Regions from separate parts of the Homo sapiens genome. Here all the other regions are linked to region 1. The links come from fine-mapping of genetic effects on gene expression. A gene starts in region 1. Each other region holds a variant in brackets. All regions are shown on one strand. Distances are between the middles of the regions.

The links. PIP is the estimated chance that this variant, and not a neighbour inherited with it, causes the effect. A credible set is the group of variants that fine-mapping cannot tell apart.
Region 2: its variant is the best candidate, but not a certain one, in a credible set for the expression of CMKLR1 in cerebellum (GTEx, PIP 0.75).
Region 3: its variant is the best candidate, but not a certain one, in a credible set for the expression of CMKLR1 in whole blood (INTERVAL, PIP 0.65).

The regions. Positions count from the first base shown.
Region 1 is chr12:108,335,527-108,342,743 of GRCh38, reverse strand. CMKLR1 (chemerin chemokine-like receptor 1) reads left to right here and starts at 3,433. Exons shown (of 4, transcript NM_001142343.2): 1 at 3,433-3,717. RefSeq lists a silencer at 3,150-3,269 and an enhancer at 3,377-4,000.
Region 2 is chr12:108,356,352-108,363,568 of GRCh38, reverse strand. No RefSeq gene overlaps it. Among named protein-coding and RNA genes, the nearest start is that of CMKLR1, 21 kb to the right of the region's middle. The variant C/T (reference allele first, on the strand shown) is at 3,492.
Region 3 is chr12:108,287,721-108,294,937 of GRCh38, reverse strand. It overlaps CMKLR1 (chemerin chemokine-like receptor 1), which reads left to right. Exons shown (of 4, transcript NM_001142343.2): 3 at 1,274-1,349; 4 at 1,979-6,892. The coding sequence starts at 1,347. The coding sequence ends at 3,097. Among named protein-coding and RNA genes, the nearest start is that of CMKLR1, 48 kb to the left of the region's middle. The variant A/G (reference allele first, on the strand shown) is at 4,085.

The DNA.
Region 1 (7,217 bases):
ACAGCCACCAGGTGGAGAGTCATAAGCCAGGCAGCCCCACGCCTTCCTCACTGGCCCAGTGGGGCTGTGGGTTCCCACCTCCTCTGCCAGCCACCCAGGGACCCAGCTGGCTGGGGGACCAGTGTCCTTGCTCTGCCAGTTGTGGCTCCTAGCTGATGAGACCCGAGCTTAGGTTTGGCTGGGAGGCCAGAGGCAGAGGGAGGCATGCCACAGCCACAGCCACCTCCAGGGAGGAAGAGGCATGTCCAGGAGTCCATCCCCGGGCTGGATTTACCCAGCTCCTCTTCCATAGTACCCGTGTGCTTGATCTTCCTCGAAGGCTGCCTTCTGGCCTCCTTCTCTTCTCTCCCACTCTCCCTCCTCTCCCCCACTCCTTCTTCTCCTCCCCTCTCCTTTATCTCCCTTTCCTCCCCTTCTTCTCTTTCCCCCTTCCTCCTTCTGACCCCCTCCTCCCCTTTCTTCCTCTTCCCTCCTCCTCTCCTCTTCCCTCTTTTTCCTCTTTTCATCTCCCTCCTCCCTTTCCCTCCTCCTCCTTACCCCCTCCCCCTCTTCTCCTCCTCCCTCTCCCCTCTCCTCCCCTTGACCCCTCCTCTTCCCTCCTCCTCCTCTCTTCCTCCTTCCTCCTCCTCTTTTCATCTCCTTCCTCCCTTTCCCTCCTCCTCCTTACTCCCTCCTCCTCGTCTCCTCCTCCCCCACCCTCTCCTCCTCCCCTTTCTTTCTCTTCCCTCCTCCTCCGCTCCTCTTCCCTCCTCCTCTTTTCATATCCCTCCTCCCTTTCCCTCCTCCTCCTCCCCCTCCCCTCTCCTCTACTTGGCCCCTCCTTTTTCCTCCTCCTCCTCTCCTCTTTCCCTCCTCCTCCTCTCCTTTTTCCCTCCTCCTCTTTTCCTCTCCCTCCTCCCTTTCCCTCTTCCTCCTCTTCCTCTTCCACTGTCCACAGCAGATGAGGAAACTGAGACTCCAAAGGTGAAAGGCCTTGCCCAAGTCACACAGCTTACAGTGACAGCGACAGGAATTCAAACCAGGTCCGTCTGCTATCAAAGCCTCTGTTCTTAGCCACTATTCTGTGCATTGGCAAGGTGACTTGTTCCAGGGCCCATTTCAATGGATTCCTAATTGAAATGCCTATGTCAGTGGATCTCAAACTTGAGCAAGCATCAGAATCCCCTGGAGGGCTTCTTAAAACCCAGATGGCTTCCTGGAGTCTCTGATTGCCAAGGTCTGCAGTGAGGCCCAAGGGTTTGTGTTTCTAACAAACTTCTGGGTGAGGCTGCTGGGGTTGGTATGGAAACTAGACTTTAGGAACCTCTGGTCTCTATTAGATGGTGATATACAAGATCCCTGCCACGTTATGGAAATATCCTCTCCTTTCACCAGGAGAACCTGGGGAATGACATGATTTGGCTTTGTGTCCCGACCCAAATCTCATCTTGAATTGGAATTCCATAATCCTCACGAGTCATGGGAGGGACCAGGTGGGAGGTAATTGAACATGGGGGTGGTTTTCCCCCCATCCTGTTCTCATGATAGTGAGTGAGTTCTCATGAAATCTGATGGTTTTATAAGAGGCTTCCCCCTTTGCCTGGCACTCATTGTCTCTCCTGCCACCCTGTGAAGAGGTACCTTCCATCATGATTGTAAGTTTCCTGAGGCCTCCCCTGCTATGCGAAAATGTGAGTCAATTAAACCTTTTTTCTTTATAAATTACCCAGTCTTGGGTATTTCTTCACAGCAGTGTGAGAACGGACCAATACAATTACTAACTTCTGGGTGACCTTGGGTGAGTCCCTTGCCTCCTCTGGGTTCAGTGTTCTCATCTGTACAGTAAGTGTTTCGATATGATGTTTTGTTCCCTAGATAAGCCCAAAGAAGAAGAGAGCAAGGAAGACAGTTGGGTAGACTGGGCCTGACTTCTGACTATAGAGACCTGTGTGACCTCAGGCAAGAGACTCAATCTCTCTGGGCTTCAAGTTATCTGTGAAATGGAAGAATGAAATTAGATGGTTTCTAAGTGTAAAGCTCACTGAATTAAAGGATTGAGGATGGTGGGGAGAGGTCGGTGGGGTTCTAAGGCTGATCAGACGATGAGGACATAGTCCTCCACCTGCCCAAGACTTTGAGGCCCAAAACACAGGTTTCTCTCCTTCTCTCCCTCCCTCCCCATCTCCCTCTCCCTTCACCTTCCCCTCCTCCCCATTACCTTCCTCCCTGCCCTCCCTTTTCTTCCTTTCTTTCTTCTCCTCCCTTCCCCTCTCTTCCCCTCCCCTGCCCTTCCCTTTTCTTTTTCTTTCTAAAAATATTATTTTAGGCAGTCGTAGGCAGTCTTGGCTTTGGAATCAGACAGACTCAGATCCAGCCATGGCTCGGTCAGCATGAGCTTGGCGCCCTGGGCAAAACGACTTCTGCTCTGTGGCCCTAGCATCCTCATGTGTAGAATGGGCAAGTGATGCCCCCCCGACGTGGGTGGTGGTTCACACGGCTTACTCCATGGAAGCACTTGGCACAGGGGCCCACATGGGCACTTCTGTTATTTCTTCAGTCTGGAGGCCAAGGGTGGGCCTCCGAGCCAGACAACATAGTTGGAATCCCAGCTCTGTCAGCTGCTGGCGGTGTGGTCTTGAGCAAGTGACTTAATCTCTCTGTACCCCAGTTTCCTTATTGGTAAGACTGGAGTAGTAATAATTCCTGTTATCTAGGGTTGCCGTGAAGAGTAAGTACGCATCGCCTAGCACGCTGCCTGGCTGTCGGTTGTTTTGATTATTCCACTAATGATGGTGACCACACAGCCGATGAACCAGGCACTTAGCGCCTGGTTAGGGCAGGGAACAGAATACAGTTCTTTCCCTACAGAGTTCCTGGTGCAAGGAGTTCTCGGTGCAAGGAGAGAGACATCTTAACAGGCAAGGACAGCACTGCATCAGTGAGGTGATGGGGTGACCCTGAGGGGCACAGCAGCCCCCGAGGGTTGGGGAAGGCTTCCCTGGGAGGTGACCTTCAACCTGAGACCTGAAGAGGCAGTAGGAGACCATCGGGCCACGAATTAGGGCAGGAATAGCATCCAGGTGGGAGGAACAGCGTTGCAAAGGCCCAGGGTGAGAGGCAGCCAATCTCTCGGTCAGTGTGGAGCTTGAGCCCCTCACCGGGAGCAGAGGCGCTTGCACTTCCCCCAGCAGCCGGGTGCTCAGATGTGCTCCCTGTTTGCGCTCAGTGGGCACGGCTCCCCGGCTGCAAGAGGCTGCCAGAGGGGCGGGTCGTCCCCAGCGGGCCCCCGCCGCCACCCACAAGCCCAGTCCCCGGCTGGTAGGGGCACCCTCCCCTCGCAGCCCCCTCTCCACGCAGCTAGCCGCCCCCGCCCTAGGTCAGCCCAGTTTCCTGCCCCTCCCTCCTGCTCTCCTCCCTCCAGCTGTTTCTCTGGCTGAGTTCTGTCCCAGTCCCATTCAGGGAAGCAGCCCCGGCGGCCAGCAGGGAGCTCAGGACAGAGCAGGCTCCCTGGGAAGCCTCCGGGTGATAGGGGTGTTCCAGCTGCGGCGCTCTGGGGGTTCAGAGGGGGATCTTGAATGAACAAATGAATGAACTGCTTTCTGGGCAAACAGCCACAGCCAGAGGAGCCTGTGATTGGCAGAAAGAAGCCAGGGTGTGCAAGTCTCCCCAACAGCCTCGAGTGGCCTGCAGTCACAGGGAACCCTCAGGAAGACCTTCCGGGCAGAGACCAGAGGGAAGGTATCATCACACACTTGCCTTGGGTGTCTTCTGAGGGGGGCCAGGGAAGGGGAATGAATACTAACAGAGAGAAAAGTTTGTTTCTTTTTATAATTTCATATTTGTTAAAAGGAAGAGTTTTGTTATTATTTTCAGATGTCAAAAGTAATGCATGTTCATTGTTTAAAGAAATAGCAAGGATACACAACTAAATATATGAATGTGGATTTCCACATCTAGTTTGGTAACCTGCTTAACCACAGATTGTGAACTTTTTTCCATATCACCTATATTCTTCCAATATACATTTTTCATGGCTGCATAGAAAGGCTATCTTAAGATTATTTGACTTTTCCATAATAGATTTGCTTCTTTTTTTTTATTAGAACAGTGCTGCAATGAATATTTAGTATGACATCTTTGTGTGTGTGTCTTATGAATACCTTTTAGAAATTGCTAGATTTAAGGTTTGCCTATTTTTAAGACTTCTGAGCTTTTGGTCACACTGCACCCTGGAAGGCCGTGGCAGCTTGACCTCTCTACGATGTTATACCAGGGCACAGTATTCTCACATACTAAACCCACCTTGTTGCTACCCATCCCTTAAACTTTCCCTGATGTGAAGTCGAGAATAATATCTAGATGCTTCAATAGGCATTTCATTTCTTTGTTAGTGTTGATTCTCTTTTATAAACTTATTTTTCACATTTCTAGTCTGACTCTCCTGTTCAAGTCTGTTCCCATTTTTTTCTCCTCTGGGGGCATGTTTATCTTTTTCCAATTGATATCTAAGGGTTCTTTGTATATAAAGGACACAAAACCTTTGCCGGCACTCTCTGTTGAAAATATTCCACTCCCTCCTCTGTCTTCAGAATAGCCCATTTTAAATGGGCAAGCCAGCTTTGGCAAAATTATAAGCATTACAACATCAGGGAACTACTACTTGATATAAGCCCAATCACTCAGACCTGTGCGGTTCAGAGATGCCAGATCACTGGTCTGAGGTCACACGCCTGAACGTCCAGGTTCTGAGTCTTTCTTTTTCTATTAGGGAAAGCCCTCAACTTCCCTTTTGCATCCCCTACCTCCTTCTCAAGACCAATCTTCTCTGTGGTTCTTGCTGTATCTCCTGCCCCTTCCAAACTGGTTTGAAGGTAAGATTCCTCTAAATGCCTTGGCTGCTGAGGTGAGTGTGACTGGGTCATTCAGGCCTCTGGTGCAGGAGGAGGCAGCTTGGCCTTTTCTTTAACCTAAACCAGTGGCACTCAAATGATGATGTGTCATACACTTGGGAGGTCCACAGGAGAGTTATCTCTTGATGCACAGGGGCCTTCTTTGGACTCCCCCAAAACTTCAGGGAACAGATAACCTTAACTTTGGGCAAGTCATGCCTTTCTCTGGCTTGACTTGTTCTGAGAAGTCCCCTACCCGCACTGGGTCAGGGCTTGTCTGCTAGGCTCTCCCAGGGCCTATCCCTCCCTTATCACGGCTCCTACCACACCGTGTTCTAATGACCAGTCATCTTGTCTGTCTCTCCTTCTAGCCGGGAGGCCCCTAGAGGCCAGATCTGGGATATTACTTTTTTTCTGCATCCTCAGTCCCCTGCACAAGAACTAGCATATATTAGGGTCATTGTTCATGGAATAAATAAAGTAACCAGGTGTCAGTTTCACCATCTGTAAAATGGGGTGGGGGAAGTTGGACTGAAGTCCCATCTCTTAGATGTTTACCTAATAACTCCTCTCAGTTTGCAAACCACTTTCTCGAGATGATTTTATCAAATCCTCACCATGGCCACATGATGAAGGTACTATTAACATGCCCATTTTACAGATTAGGAAACAGAAGCCTGGAGAGTTCTGATGCTAGACCTCCCCACAAAAGGGAGTAGAACATTGTGCAAGAAGGGGCACCTTGGTCTTAGGCAAGGTACTCCCACTCTCTGGCCACAATAATATCATCTGTAAATAAGGATGATATTATTTGATATTATTATCACTCTGGGGGTGGGCTTGAATTGGCCTGCCACCTGCCAACTGAGTGACATGGAATCAGTTATTCCTCATCTTTGTGCCTGAGTTTCCTCATCTATAAAATGGGAATATGATCAGTAACTGCCTCATAAGATTATTCTAAAGAGTAAATGAGATCATACAAGTAAAGCTGTAAGCAGAGGATTTGTTGTAAAATAAGGTCTCTATAAACATTAGCTATTGTTCTGATGATCATTTCTATTCCACTGTGCCTGTCTATACCTGTGACACTCATCTGAGCCAAATGGAAATTATTATTGATTTCTTTAGTGGATTATTAATGCTCTTATTCCCACTGATGTACAAGAAAACCAAAAGCTTATTTCATTCTCTTTGAGCTACACCACATGGGTGCAGACATTACCGCCAGTTGCGAGGCTATGAAGTAGACTCAGAGCTTCTCAAAGTGCAATCTCTAGACCACCTGCATTAGAATAATTGTGAGTGTTTCTTTTTTTTTTTTTTCCTGGAGATGGAGTCTCGCTCTGTCGCCCAGGCTGGAGTACAGTGGCGCAATCTTGGCTCACTGCAAGCTCTGCCTCCCGGGTTCACGCCATTCTCCTGCCTCAGCCTCCCAAGTAGCTGCGACTACAGGCACCCACCACCCCGCCCGGCTAATTTTTTGTATTTTTAGTAGAGACGGGGTTTCACCGTATTAGCCAGGATGGTCTCAATCTCCTGACCTTGTGATCCACCCACCTCGGCCTCCAAAAGTGCTGGGATTACAGGCGTGAGCCACTGCGCCCGGCCAATTGTGAGTGTTTCTTAAAGCTTCAGTTTGGAAATCAGAATCTCTGTGGATGAGGCTTCAGTGTCTGCATGTTGAACCAGCACCCCAGGTCATTCAGATGCACCCCAAAACTTGAGAACTACCAACCTAGAGTGCTTAAAAGTCTTTCCTTTTTGCCCTTTGTTCACACTGGGGTCTTGGGTTCTTTGCTGCACAATAAGGTTTCTTTTTTCCCTTCTAAGCAAATATTCATGTACTTCTGTGAATCCACATGTTCCGTGTCAGCAGTTGAGGCCAGAAGGTTTGGCAGAGAAGAAGCGAAACTTTGTCTTATAGTACCACAGAAAGTCAGATCGTGTTAGCAATCCCCCAGCATGGAGGCTTTGAAATTATTTTCAGTTGCAGAATCCTTTCCACAAATGAAAGTCTTATGGGGAAGTGTAATTTGAAAACAGATAAAGGTGGTGTTATTCTTGTTGAAACAGAGGTGGAAGACTCCAGGCTGCCACTAAATCTCACTCTTGTTGCTGAAGGGCCTCTAAGAATCTTTGTAGCTCCATGGGGCAGGCAGGAAACTGCAACTCCTCTACTCCAAGGAGTTAAGAGACCAAAGTTCTAGACATTTGTTGAGCTTACTGTGTGACCTTGGCAAGGCACTCTTACTCTTTGGCCACAATAATTTCATCTGTAAATAAGGAGGTCGAATGGTATATCAGCTAGGGTAGTAGCTGCAGTAACAAATAGGTCCCCAAAGGCAT
Region 2 (7,217 bases), 21 kb before region 1:
ATCACTCTCCAACACCACATACAAACATACCACACACGACACACACACCATACCACACACATGCACATGCACACACGCCACAGACACACCACACACACGTACACACACACCAAACCCCCCACACATCATACACACCACACATATCACACACACACGTCACACCACACCCACCACACCACACATATGCACACATGCACACCACACACACCACGCATACACACCACACACATGCCACACACACACGCCACACACACTACACACACCCACACACACGCCCCCATACACCACACACGTCACATACACACCACACACGCCACACACGCCACACATGCACACACACACCCCACACATGCCACACACACACACGCCCCCCCACACTCCACACACACACCATGCACACACACACTCTCCCAGCTCCTCCTCTGGAACAAGCTTGACCACGTCAGGTCTTCTCTTCCATGGTTTTTCCAAATCAGTTTGAGCCACGTTTTACTTTTGTGGCTCTTGTCAGAGAGGCCAGGCCCCATGAACTGCAGGGAGTGGGCCGTTCTGCCCATGTTGGGGGTGGCTACATGGTGCCACAGCCATCCGTGGCCCATCCTTGAAGGGTATGGATTTTGCTGGATGTCTGGGGTCTGGGGAAGTCAAGCAATTCGCTCGTGTGGCAGGATGTGATTTTCTGTCACTTTCACCATCTCACTCTTCCTCTTCCCCACCCCTTATGAGAAAGAAGGCTCTTTTACTAGAATATCATGTTAAAGTGATGCTTTGGGAGGTGGTTTTATTCATCAAACACTTATGTAATCCTTATTAGGCACCAGGTCTAAGGCCTTTAGATGTGTGATATCCCTTAACCCCCATGACAGCCCTATGAGCCTTATGACTCCCATTTTACAGATGTGGAAACAAAGGCCAAGATCATACAGCTAGTAAGTGACGGAGCCTGGATGAAACTCAGGCTGTCTGGTTCCACAGGAGTTGTGTTCTTACCCACCTCGCTCTGCTGCCTTTCCAGTGAGCTTGATCTTCCTAAGAGGAAAACTTGCTTGTCTTCTAGACCAGCCTTGCAGTTGGTCTTGGGCAAGAGAGGCTTCCCTGGGCAATGGAAGACAGAGGCCTGCTCTGATACTCCTCTGGCCTTGCCCTTCCCCAGGAAAGTGGTTATCCAGAGCTCACTTCCTCCTCCTTCTAGTGCATGTCCTGAGTACCTGGGAGCTGAGGATTCCCTGCCCAAGGGGCTTGCAGGGCTTCTTCCCTGGATCTTTTCTCCCAAGAGCAGTGCACTCAGGCCAAAGATGGCTAAAGAGTGACAGATTTTGGATCTGAGCACTGGGCTGTGTGTGTTCATCTGTGGGTGCAAGGCCCTTCTTAGTGTGCGATGAAGCTGGGGTGGGAAATTAAGAGGGGTGGGAAATAGATGGATGACCAGCTTTCTCTCTGCTGTCTTCCAGCGTGGAGCACTGAGAAATCTGAGTTCCTCATTAGATCCTAGGCTTCCAAGTTGTTGGGAAAGGTCTGTTTGTCAAAGTAGGAGGATAGAACATTTTCTGTTTAACGTTAGCAAGCTTGATTGATAATTTTAAGCATTTAGACATATGCTATGTGGACCCCCATTTATCCTCTTGCCCCCGGCCCCACAAATGTCAGGGTGGACTTGTGAAGTGGATGTGGGACTGAAAACCTATTGTCCCAGCAGCTGGGGATGCTGCAACTATCAGCCTCTGCAGGAGTCCCCTCTGATGTAGAAATCACTCTTGCTTAACTTTCTCAAAGCCATGTCCCTTCGGGAAACAGCCCACATTGATTACAGTGCAGGAGTAGTAAGGTCTGGTATCTTGTCCCACCTCTTCCTGGCTCTGTAGGATCATCTCAGCTCCAGCATTCTCTGTGGGGTTAACAGAAGCCTCCACTGAGGCTATGTCCCAGCCAGATTTCTCCCTCTGCCGATGCAGCATCCTTTCTGTCCCCATGCAGGTGTTGATTCCTTTGTGATGTGTCTTTGCAATGCCTTCACTAGGGGGTAAGTCTACTCCACCCCACTGGTGTTGGGCCTGGGGGCTATGAGGAACTCTATAGAGAATATATGCGGTAACAGACTGTAGCCTTGCCTGTTGGCTCCCCCGTTCTAGGGAAGAAACCTTGGCCAGGCAAAGATAGGACAATGATGCCAAATAAGTCATTCACTTTAGTGACATTACTGGGTCAAGACAGGGGGTCAGTTTTATGAGAAGCATTAAGCTGGGAGGAAGGGTTTGAAAAGTATTGGAAGATATAATGGAACACTGTGATTATTCACTTTCTTCTACACATCTATGGGGTGTGGCCTTGTGACTTGCTTGGCCAATGGAATGTGGGCAGAAGTGACGATGTGCCAGTTCCTCACCTGGGCTTTAAAAGTCTTCATGGGCTTATTCTCACCCCTCTTGAATTTCTGCCATCACCTTGAAAAGCACATGCCCTGGCTACCCAACTTGTCCAGGGAGAGTGAGTGGCACCTGGAGCAGATTGGGATCCAATCAATGGCTAATAGCCAAGCTTGGCCAAGCCCATCCAGGTTAGCTGATCACCCCCCAGCTCACAAATATGTGAGTGAGAATGAAGTATTATGGTTTTAAGCCACAGAATCTTAGGTGCTTTGCTAGACAGCATCAGTGGCAAAATCTGGACACAAAAGTACCTGTGCTTGTTTTGGGGAAAAATGATGGGTTTCCACTCTGTAATTCCTGAGTCAAATAGACATTGAAGAAAGAGGTTCCACAAGGATGTTTTCATTAGCAAGCCACTGGGGAATTCCAGGGAAGTGAGCTCCAGGCTGAGAAGCATAAAACTGGGAGGAAGAGCTTGAAAGGTATTAGAAAGCATAATGAGCCACTGTGATGATTCATTTCTCCTATGCATGTGGGTCAAGCCCAGTTGCTGGTTGGATGCCCTGATCTCAGCAGATGCTTCCACCAAAACCTCAGGGGCTTCCCACAGTCCCCAGGGAGGTGGTCTTGAAGTCTTAATGTGGTGTTGTATGTGTGGATGTTGGTGAGAAAGATGAATGCCCTGAATGCTTCAAATACAGGGACAGCTGCTGGCCTGGGGACCATGAGGAGCCCCACCATAAAGAATGTTCTGGGGTAACAGACTGCAGCCTCTTCTGCTGGCTCCTTTGATTTAGGGAAGAATCCTTAGCTGTGCAAAGGTGGGAAAATGACCCCCAAGTTAGTCACCCATTTTAGTGACATTACTGGTCCAAGACAGGGGATCAGTAATTGGCTTTCTGCTACTCACTAGCCATGTGATCTTGGGAGCAAGTCTGGCCTCAGTGTCCTCATCTGATCAATGGGCACAACAATGCCTCATACATTTATCTTGATGATGAATGAAAATAATTCAAGCTCAAATCTACCTCAGGGTGTTTGCCTTGGCAATTTCCTCTGGCTGGTACAGTCCATCTTGAGATTTTGATGGCTGATAATTGGATCCTTCAGATTCAGGGAGCCCAC[C/T]CTGCCTGCTCACACAGCTGCTTCCTGACTGCCATCATCACACCCCCCATTTTTTTTTTTTGAGGTGGAGTCTTGCTTGTTGCCCAGGCTGGAGTGCAGTGGCGTGATCATGGCTCACTGCAGCTTCCACCTCTGGGGCTCAAGCAATCCTCCCACCTCAGCCTCCTGAGTAGCTGAGACTACAGGTGTGCACCACCACGCCTGGCTAATTTTTGTATTTTTAGTAAAGTTGGGGCTTCACCATGTTGGCCAGGCTGGCCTCGAACTCCTGACCTCAAGTGATCCTTCTGTCTCAGCCTCCCAAAGTGCTGGGATTACAGGCGTGAGCCACCGTACCTGGCCGACGACCCCCTGTTTTATGCACCTTTGAGTACTTACCACTATCTGAAATGATCTTGTGGACTTCTATGTTCCTTGCTCCCAGGGATGACCTGTTGACAGCACATATAGCAAAGGGCCTGAAAAATAGTAGCTGCTCAGTTAGTCTTGTTTGAATGAATAAGCAACTGGAGAGGTGGATGCAGTGTCTGCTGCCAGTAGGCATGATGTGAATATACAAATATACATTCTCTTTCATTCTTTCATCTGAGGACTCCCAGAGAATCTGATGGGTTTGGGCTTAAATTAATTGGAAATAACTTTTCATTTTCCAGGTAATTCCTCCAGTCTCTACTTCAGAGGTTACACATTGGCGGCGTGCACTCCATATGTGGTTCTCCAATATATTCTGATGGATGGCATGGTGTTTCCAAACCATTTGAGACAACTTCTATAAATCAGGATATTTCATATTTAAAAGAATCTTACTTTCAGATATTTTCAGATAAAAAAAGGGAGATCCAGCAAAGCCAGGCCTGAATTTCTGCTTGGCAAGGAGGGGCTGGCACTGAGTAGCCACCCTCTGGGGTCAGGTGGACCAATCCCTGACTGGTCCACCATTGCTCCCATCGCTCCTTCAACGAACCCCTGTCCAGTCCACTGGTTCCCATGACCTGCCTGGTCTCTGCACGTGTTTGTGTCCCCTGATCTATTCTTTTCTGGTTCTGCCGAATGGGTCACAGCTGACTTTACTGTTCCCTCCTGCTGTTCGGCTACTCCCGCAAGAATTCATGGCCCCGAGCTCAGCTCCAGAACCCTCTTGCTTTCAACTCCCACCCCATCGCTTGCTCTTGGTATACGGATTTTAAAACATGCACAATTGATTTGCCAAGAATGGGATGATTAATTAGAAACGAAGACTCATTGTGGGAGAGCCTCGGAGGCGGTTTTGATCTCTATGCTTCTTGAATTTCCTTGCCTTTGTTCTGGCCCCAGATAGGGGACTCATTAGGCAGCGGGGGCTGCTGGGCACAGAGAGTTTGCTATTTTTGAAAACCTCTGACTCAGCACCCCCCTCCCCAGCCCTTCTCTTTCTTCTTGAGCTATGCCCCTTGCTCTGAATCTGAAGGTGTGTGCTGGGAGCTGACATGGGGATACAAGCCCACACCTGGCAGGCTGCGAGGGTGCATTTCCTTCTTTTCCTAAATTTAAGAAAAAATCATCTCCAGACAATGCTCAGCCTTGTCAGAGTAGTGGAGACATGGTGGGGAAAAGTAGCCTGGATCTGAGAGATTTCCTTTAGAATCTTGCCACCCAGGTGTGGTTCTCAGTCCAGCAGCATCTCAGGTATCCAGGGGAAGCTTGCTAGGAATGCAGACTCTTGGACTCCAACCCAGACCTACTGACACAGAATCTGCACTGAGCTCCCCAGGCAATTGGTGTGACCAGAGAAATTTTCATCTTTATCTTGGTTCTAGTGCATACTTTGAAAGTGGGTGCCATCTTCCACACTATTGTTAAACCACAGTGGGATCTGATTCTCACGAATCTCCACTTCACCCCCAGCCCAGTGCCTGGCACATAATAAGTGCTCAGTGTGTCTTTGTAGATTTGCATCCACCATATCCACCATAGAGGTCAGGTTCCTTATGTGGTTCTCAGCCTTGGCTGCACATTGGATTCCCTGGGGAGCTTTATACATTACTGACCCCTGGGCTCCACCCCAAGAGATTCTAACTAACTTGGTTTGGGTGTGACTTGGGCTTGGAGATTTTGAAAGCTCCCTAGGGAGTCAAAAGTGCAGCCAGGGTCAAGAACAACTGTTTTTGTATATTTTTAAAATGTTGGTGCATCTGATGAAAGTTCTGAGTGGTCACAATCCTTCTTTAAAATCCCATGGGGGTGAGGGTGATGCGGAAACCCACTCAACATCCCTACATTTTTCCTCAGTGTTGGGATCAGATAGCTGTTTTCTTACTGAAGAACGGATGCCATTACTGGATTGTATTTAGGGGTCAAGACATATGAAATGCATATCTTGGAATCCAAGAGTCACACTCCCAGGGCGAGATGCTCACCTTGTGGGCTGCTCGTGGGATGCGAGGCCACACCCACACACGGAAGCACCTGCCCTTTCGCATCCTTCTCCTCTCCCACTTTCCCTCGTTCATTCCTACTCTTTCTTCAGATCTCAACCTGATGCTCACTTCCTCCAGGAAGCCTCCCCTGACCACCCACCTCTGGGTAGGCAGGTTCCTTTGTTAAATGTATTCAAAGAATGGGGCTCTTTTCAGAGCCTAGTTGGCAGTTAGACACTCAGGCATGGAAGGCTGGGGTTGAAGTTGGGGACCCCACCCTGGACTGGAAACTTGCTAGGAGCAGTTGTCAGGCCTTTGTAGCCCTTCATGGTATTCCAATGTATCTAGCAGGGACCTAGTAAAAATTGCAATGAATGACTGAATGAGTGAATGAATGAATGAATCATCGAGGTTGTTGAGGGTGTTGGGGGAAGGGTTATTCCTTTCCACACAACCTCTATGTAGATGTGGTTTATCCAATTACCATGAGCTACTCAGCCAGCCCTGCAGCATGCAGTGAGGCATAGCTGTATTTCTGAGGCCTATAATTTTCCAGTAATTAGACTTTCAGGCACATATGTCTTGTGGCTCGAATATGATTCTGTTATACCTCTGTTGCTAAAGTAACTGCTACGTAAGCCTTCAAAAATTTGCTTTAATAATGATGGGCTATAGTGGATCTGTGCTATTTAGGTAACTTGCAATCTACCTTCAGGACAATATAATTACATGGCTGGGTTATTTTTAATTTCATGGGACAGCATTCCTCAAGCTTCAGCCATCCCAGTGCCACCGTTTTTATTTTTGCCCTGCTTGTATACCATTTCTATGGTGTCGTGAATTTAATATTGTCCTTTAAATCTACTCATTAAAAATGTCAGTGAATGTACTCATTAAAAATATCAGTAAATGTAGCTCAAAAGGGAAATTTACATGACCACAGTAAATAGAAAACCAATATCAATTTCCTCAAATAGAAAGTGACCATAAAATACCACCCCTACATAAACAATCAAAATAAAACACGGTTATTAATGTTTGGTTGATACTGTTGCCTGCCCAAGGCTTTGAGCTTGAGGCCTGCTCTTTCTTTGTTATAAAGGGAGATTGGCAAATGTTGAAGAAGGTGTTAAAGACCTGGTAGCACCAAATTGAGACTTTCCCTGGTATAATTAGAAGGACAGAAAAAGAATCGAAAAAGCAACTTTCTCATGTTGTGATTCAATATTTATTTAGTGTCTTGTCTATGTTATAGGCTATTGTTTTATAATACAAATTGATTTGTCTGAGCTCATAGCTTGCTCTTATAAAATCAATAGCAAGTTTTATG
Region 3 (7,217 bases), 48 kb after region 1:
TTTATTTAATAAAAGCAAAAGATGACTTTTATGTAATAAAATATAACCTTAAGCTGGGAAGGATCAGTAATGAATTTATGTGCAGGAAGGTTGGAGTTATTTATAATAAAGCATTGATTAGCAGCCTTGTGAAGCTGAAATATCTGGTTTGGAGCCCATTTGACAAGATGGGGAGATCATGAGCCGCAGAAAAAAGTGCATGGGCTCTGGGGTATCAGAGCCTTGGTTTTAAATCCTGCTTATCAGCTGTGCACCTCTAGGCAATAATGCAATCACTAGTATTTATTGAGGGCTTACTATGTGCCAATACCAAGCTAAATGCTCCACATTTCTGATGCTTCTAGTTCTTATATACACTCTGTGAGGTGAGAAATCCCATTTATTGGTAAGAAAACTGAGATTCAGGGAAGAGAAATCACTTGCCCAAAGCCACACAGCTCATAAGTGTCCGGGGTTAGGTATGAACCCTGCATGTGATCACTGCCTCCAAGATCTTGCAAACTTGCAAACTCCTCAGAATATGTTTGTTCTTCCATAGACTGGAAAAATACTCAGCAAGATTGTTATGGGGCTTGTTTAAAGTGCCACTTAAGTTGTCTGCACAGCGGAGGCTCAGTGGATATATTTGTGTCTGTCTTCACACCAGACTGCTGTGGCTTCAGAGCCTGCATCTCATTCATGGTTCCCATAGGGCCCAGAGAATATCCAGCAAGAATGATGCTTCTTTCTCTGAGCCTCAGTCTCTCTATTTCTTAACACAAAAGGAATAACACCTGCCTGGAAAAGTCCCAAGGAAGACTAAATAACAAGAAAGAATAAAAGTTCTTGGCACATAGCAGGTACTCTGTGTGGGTCTTCTCCTGTTTTCTCTGTGCTCACACTTCCTAAAACAGTATTTTGTGGGTCCTGCCCTGGTAGTGGAGTTGAGTCCCGACCTGGTAGTGGATTGAGCCATCCATGTACCTCCTCTGTGTCTTCCTTTACTCATGCCCGACTCCAGCTGTCAGCTAGGGATGTGCTGGGAGAGGGGAGTGGTTAGAATGAAGAGTCCAGCACTTGACCTGGGAAGAGTCAGTTGACCTAGGTTCAAGGGGCTCCATCCCTTCCTGGCTGCATAACCTTGGCTGAATAACAGCCTTTCTGAACTTCTGCTTCCTTCTCTGTAAAATGGGAATAAGAACAACAGATCTTATTTCTGGCTGGGTCCACTCAACCCTCTGGTTCTTAGACCTGGATCCAATTGCTGCTTTTTTTTTTTTTTTTTTCCCTACAGGTGTTTCTAGCTGTGTACAGGGACTGATTGGCTGAGGACTCACATTGGAGAGCTGCAGACAACATAACGGTGAATGGTGAGGAAGTCTTGTGGTCTGAACTCCAAAGGGCACCAGTGACCACTGACAGATTGGGTGCACAGGGGGATCACAACAAGGCTGTCCACTTGGTTTTAGAAGCATGTTGGAATCAAGTTCACAGCACCATGTACCTCTTCTTCATTGCACTTAGCATTATTGCAATGTTCCCATTATTTGAGGGACTTTTTGATGAACAATTGTCTCCCCCACTAGGCTCTAGAGGAAGACAGGGCCCCAAGCAGACAGAAAACATGGTTGTCAAAAGGATAGACTCTGAAGCTTGGATTCAAATCACAGGTCTGCCTTTTCCTAGCTGTAGGACTTCAGGCAAATGACATAAGCTCTCTGTGACTCAGTTTCCTCATTTGTAAGTTGAGGCTCATAACCTACCTACCTCATTGAGTTACTGTGAAGATTAAGAGAGTGTAGAATGCAATAGTGCCTGGCATGTAGGAGGTACCAGAGAGGCATTTGTTCAATAAATAAAATAGCAAAGAAGGAAATGGTTAAATCACAAAACTGGACTTGCTCAGAGTCAGGGGGAACATTGTTGGTCTTGCTGGTATTGGTCAACCTCTTAAAGCCAACTCTAGGGTTCCTCTAATGGTCCCTGTCTTCTCTTGCAGAGAATGGAGGATGAAGATTACAACACTTCCATCAGTTACGGTGATGAATACCCTGATTATTTAGACTCCATTGTGGTTTTGGAGGACTTATCCCCCTTGGAAGCCAGGGTGACCAGGATCTTCCTGGTGGTGGTCTACAGCATCGTCTGCTTCCTCGGGATTCTGGGCAATGGTCTGGTGATCATCATTGCCACCTTCAAGATGAAGAAGACAGTGAACATGGTCTGGTTCCTCAACCTGGCAGTGGCAGATTTCCTGTTCAACGTCTTCCTCCCAATCCATATCACCTATGCCGCCATGGACTACCACTGGGTTTTCGGGACAGCCATGTGCAAGATCAGCAACTTCCTTCTCATCCACAACATGTTCACCAGCGTCTTCCTGCTGACCATCATCAGCTCTGACCGCTGCATCTCTGTGCTCCTCCCTGTCTGGTCCCAGAACCACCGCAGCGTTCGCCTGGCTTACATGGCCTGCATGGTCATCTGGGTCCTGGCTTTCTTCTTGAGTTCCCCATCTCTCGTCTTCCGGGACACAGCCAACCTGCATGGGAAAATATCCTGCTTCAACAACTTCAGCCTGTCCACACCTGGGTCTTCCTCGTGGCCCACTCACTCCCAAATGGACCCTGTGGGGTATAGCCGGCACATGGTGGTGACTGTCACCCGCTTCCTCTGTGGCTTCCTGGTCCCAGTCCTCATCATCACAGCTTGCTACCTCACCATCGTGTGCAAACTGCAGCGCAACCGCCTGGCCAAGACCAAGAAGCCCTTCAAGATTATTGTGACCATCATCATTACCTTCTTCCTCTGCTGGTGCCCCTACCACACACTCAACCTCCTAGAGCTCCACCACACTGCCATGCCTGGCTCTGTCTTCAGCCTGGGTTTGCCCCTGGCCACTGCCCTTGCCATTGCCAACAGCTGCATGAACCCCATTCTGTATGTTTTCATGGGTCAGGACTTCAAGAAGTTCAAGGTGGCCCTCTTCTCTCGCCTGGTCAATGCTCTAAGTGAAGATACAGGCCACTCTTCCTACCCCAGCCATAGAAGCTTTACCAAGATGTCATCAATGAATGAGAGGACTTCTATGAATGAGAGGGAGACCGGCATGCTTTGATCCTCACTGTGGAACCCCTCAATGGACTCTCTCAACCCAGGGACACCCAAGGATATGTCTTCTGAAGATCAAGGCAAGAACCTCTTTAGCATCCACCAATTTTCACTGCATTTTGCATGGGATGAACAGTGTTTTATGCTGGGAATCTAGGGCCTGGAACCCCTTTCTTCTAGTGGACAGAACATGCTGTGTTCCATACAGCCTTGGACTAGCAATTTATGCTTCTTGGGAGGCCAGCCTTGACTGACTCAAAGCAAAAAAGGAAGAATTCTCAAAAGCATTGCCATGAACTGGGATTGGCATAGGGCGGTGGGATTAAGCTGCCTATTGTGTGTGCCCCAGAAATGACACTCTCCAAGGTCCATTCCTGGTGTGAGCAGTGAGGGGGTCAGAGCAAACCCAGTGTGATGCAGATCACACTTGGCCCTTGTATATATATTATCAGTAGCTGGCCAGAAAACCCTACCTTCAAGTCACTGCTCTGTGTTAAAGTATGTGGAAATGCATAGGTGATCTGGGAGAGGAAGGTGACATATCAGCCCATGAACTCCATAGGCCATGAATTTGGCTTTCGGATCAGCTAGGAAGACAGAGAACTGGTCCTGAGAGGTCCTGTGGGCTCTTTGCAAGGGCAAGACAAGTGAGGGATGCAACGAGGACTTGAGATTTGGCAAAGAAATGAGAAAGGAGAAAAGAACCTTTAAAGGATGCAGGCATGGAGCAGCTCACCCTAGAACATCGCAGGCTGATGGTGCTTTAGGCTGGAGCTATTTGGGGCGTCAGGGTGGTGCCAGCCCCTGATCTCACCTTGCCCCTCTTACCTGGGGGTGGGGTTGTGGCAGGCATCTTCACCAGCAGCCCTCACCCCATCACAGGGATTTTTTTCTGCCTTTCCTAATCCACTCAGCTCTGGCTGGAGGTGCTTAGAATAAAACACTGGTGGTGGGGCTTCTCATTCTGGTTAATTTCCTCAACGCCTTTGGAGAC[A/G]GGTCCAAAATGCAGCTTTGGGAAGCAACTCCGGAGAGTCCCCTGGGAAGAAGAGTATGTCCGAGGACTCAGTCACTTGAGACAGAGTCTGGAGCTGGACTCCTTGAACTGTGTTTCTGAGCTGCAGACACCAAATACCTCCTGGATACAGGTGCCTGGCATGGCTTTTCTCATCTAATACTGACACGTCCCTGTGGCCACAGAGTGTCATAGCCCCATTTACAAATGACATAGCTGAGGCCCAGATGGGGAAAGTAACTTGCCCAGCATCACACAGCTAATCAGTGGCAGAGTTAAGATCTGAACCTGGCTCCGTCTGGCTCCAGAAACTCTGTTCTTCTATTTGGAATTTATCTGTGGAGATTATTCTAGTATATTGATAGCCTACATTTATTTAGCACTTTTTATATTATGCACTTTACATATGTTTTCTCATTTAATCATTACAGCAACCCTGAGTTAGGTATGGTTATAACTTCCCTTTTACATAGGAGGAATCTGAGGCTTAGAGAGGTTAAGTAACTTGCCCAAAGGTACCCAGCTAGTCTCTGCCGGAGCTTGGATTTGAACTTCAGTTTGCCTGGCTCAAATGAGGCTGCAGAGTTGGGAAGGACTTAAAAAGTTTGGAGATTTTTGCCATAAATATTGATTTTTCTGCAAATGAGGATGAACATCTTAATGGCCTTTAAGAAACTTTGCAAATAGTTTTCAAAAATGATGCAACATGGCAGAGAAAATGCACTTGGCTTCCAGCTCCCTCAACAGCCATTAACAGCCTCCTACCGTGGCTCCCACCTCCTATGTCTCCAGAGATCAAGGCAATGGGGAGGGAAAGCTGGCAGGAGGCAGTCCCTTGTGGGCCTGAGGCCCTTTGGCTCCTAAGTGTCCACATTCTGTTCTCTTCCAAGTCCCTTCATTGTTAAGCTGATTCTCCAACAAGATGCAATGAACAGATGCAATGTCTACCCCGCGCTGGGCGAGTTCCCGAGGCCATGGGCTGTTTGGAATCACACTTCATTAAGAGACAAACTGTTCCTTCCCTTATTGTGCCTTAATGCTTATGACAAGGCAGCTCTGAATTGATCCCAAGCTGGAGCCTCTGAATGCTTTAAAGAGTTTGAATATAGACGGTTTGAGAGCAAAAAGGGAGCTTTAAATATTGCTCAGTGGCCCCCATCTCCCCTCTTCCCACATTTACTGAGGCACGAGATGGGATGGGACCTGTCCCGGGTCACAGCAGCAGTCGTCAGCGCCTTGGCCCTCCTGGCTTGTAGGATGCTGCTTTTCCTGGGCTTCTGGCAGTCCAGGCCAGGATGGGGGAGCCAGGAATTCATGTTGTCATTGGAAAAGCTGATAAACAGGAGCACAATTCAAACCGGCTGTTTTCCTCCTTAGAGTCTGGCCTCCCTCTTTCTGGCTGCTCTGTGGGTCTTCCTGTTCTGACTTAGGTTCCTGTCAAGTACTTAAATGCAGCCTTAACATCCCATACAGTCTTGTCCCCACAGCTTCATGTGAACATCTCCATGGGTCATGCATATATCGTCCCTGCAGTGTGCAAAGTGTGCTCACCTGCACTGCTGCACAGGCAACCAACATACTTAGTGCCCAGAGCCTTCTCTCTGGGCCCAGGACTCAGTGATGGGGCCTTACTTAGCCCTGCCTCCTGGGTGGGGTGGGGGAGCTGAGGGATCGTGAGGACAAGAGGTAGAGGGAAAAGAAAAGAAGATGGTGTTTGAGGATAGGGGAGGGACAGGAGAGGGGACAGAAAGGTCCCAGAGCATGATGATGAAGGAAAGGGATCTGGCATTCATGAAGCACCTACGATGGTTCAGGCACAAACACTGAAACCTCAAATTGGCCCTGGCAGAAGGGGACCATCATAGCAAGGTGGGGGGGGGGTGCAGAAAGTGAGTTTCTGTTTCAAGAACAGACTTCACTAGTTCAGAGTTGCACAGCTAGTGAGGTATGGAGCTGGGCTTTGAATCAGGTCAGCTGCCTGAATGCCCAACTTCTTCAGCCCTTGGAAGGAGAGGGTGGGGAGAAGAAGAAGGAAAAGACAAGGAAGAAAGAAAGAAGAGAGAAGGGGAGAGGAATGGAAGTCCAAAGAGTGGGAGGAATTTGATTTCAGAACCATCTCCAGCTGACCCTTGAGCCAGCAAGGACAGGGAGAAGGGAAGAGCAAGAACACGAAGGGCCTCAAGCACCGGGATGCCTTTGCCAGCCTTAGATAATTCCCAGAGCGCACAGAGCCCTGCAGGTTCCTGGGTCCTTCTCCAGAGAAGAGGCACAGAGATTCTGGCAGCAAGGTTCAGAAGGGGTGAGGAAACTGGGCACTGACAAAGGGAGGGGATTGGCTCAAATTCGACCCCAGAGTCAGCTCTGGTGGGGTTGGGAGCCTGGATGGGTGGGAGAAGATAGAATCCAATCGTGAAAACCATAAGGGACCTTCAAACTCATCTTGCCCAGATGTCTCCCATTTCACAGATGAGGGAACTGAGGTTTTGAGAGCTTCCCCTGAGGACTCTGCAAAACGAGGTGGTGTCTGGTTTGGATGAAAGTGGTCGGTGATTCCTCAACTCCTGCCCTGCCTCCCTCTCTCGTTCCTCCCTAACATGTTATGCTCTTGTTGGGGCTGGGATGCCCTAGGCCCAAGGTTACCAAATCCTGGGTTTGGAAAATTGCTGCTGGGGGTGGTATCTAGGACCAGAGAGGAATCTACTATTTCTACTGTGAAATAATTCAGCAGGGGGTCTTCTTACTTCTTCCCTTTGAGGACAAAGTTTCTCTCGAATAAAGAGACTGAAGCAAGAGTGTGTGGCTCAGTTCTGGGGGTTCCTGCCATCACCTCCCTTTTGCCTTCCTCACTTACTTCACAGAACAGCAGCTGAGGCTCAGAGAGGTGAGGCGGCCAGTGCAAAGTCACAGAGCTATGTTGTGGGCAGCAGGAGAAGCCCTGAAGTCCCCAACCTGCCATTCTCAAACCTTCGAGCTCCAAGAAATTTGCATTTTGAAAAAAATTCTTTTCACTTATTTTGCTTTTCTAGCAACTGAGGATGTGAAAGAGGTAGTTACTCACCCAAGATAATATAGTAAACCCTAGCAGATAAGGGACATAAAGCCAGGCCTCCTCATG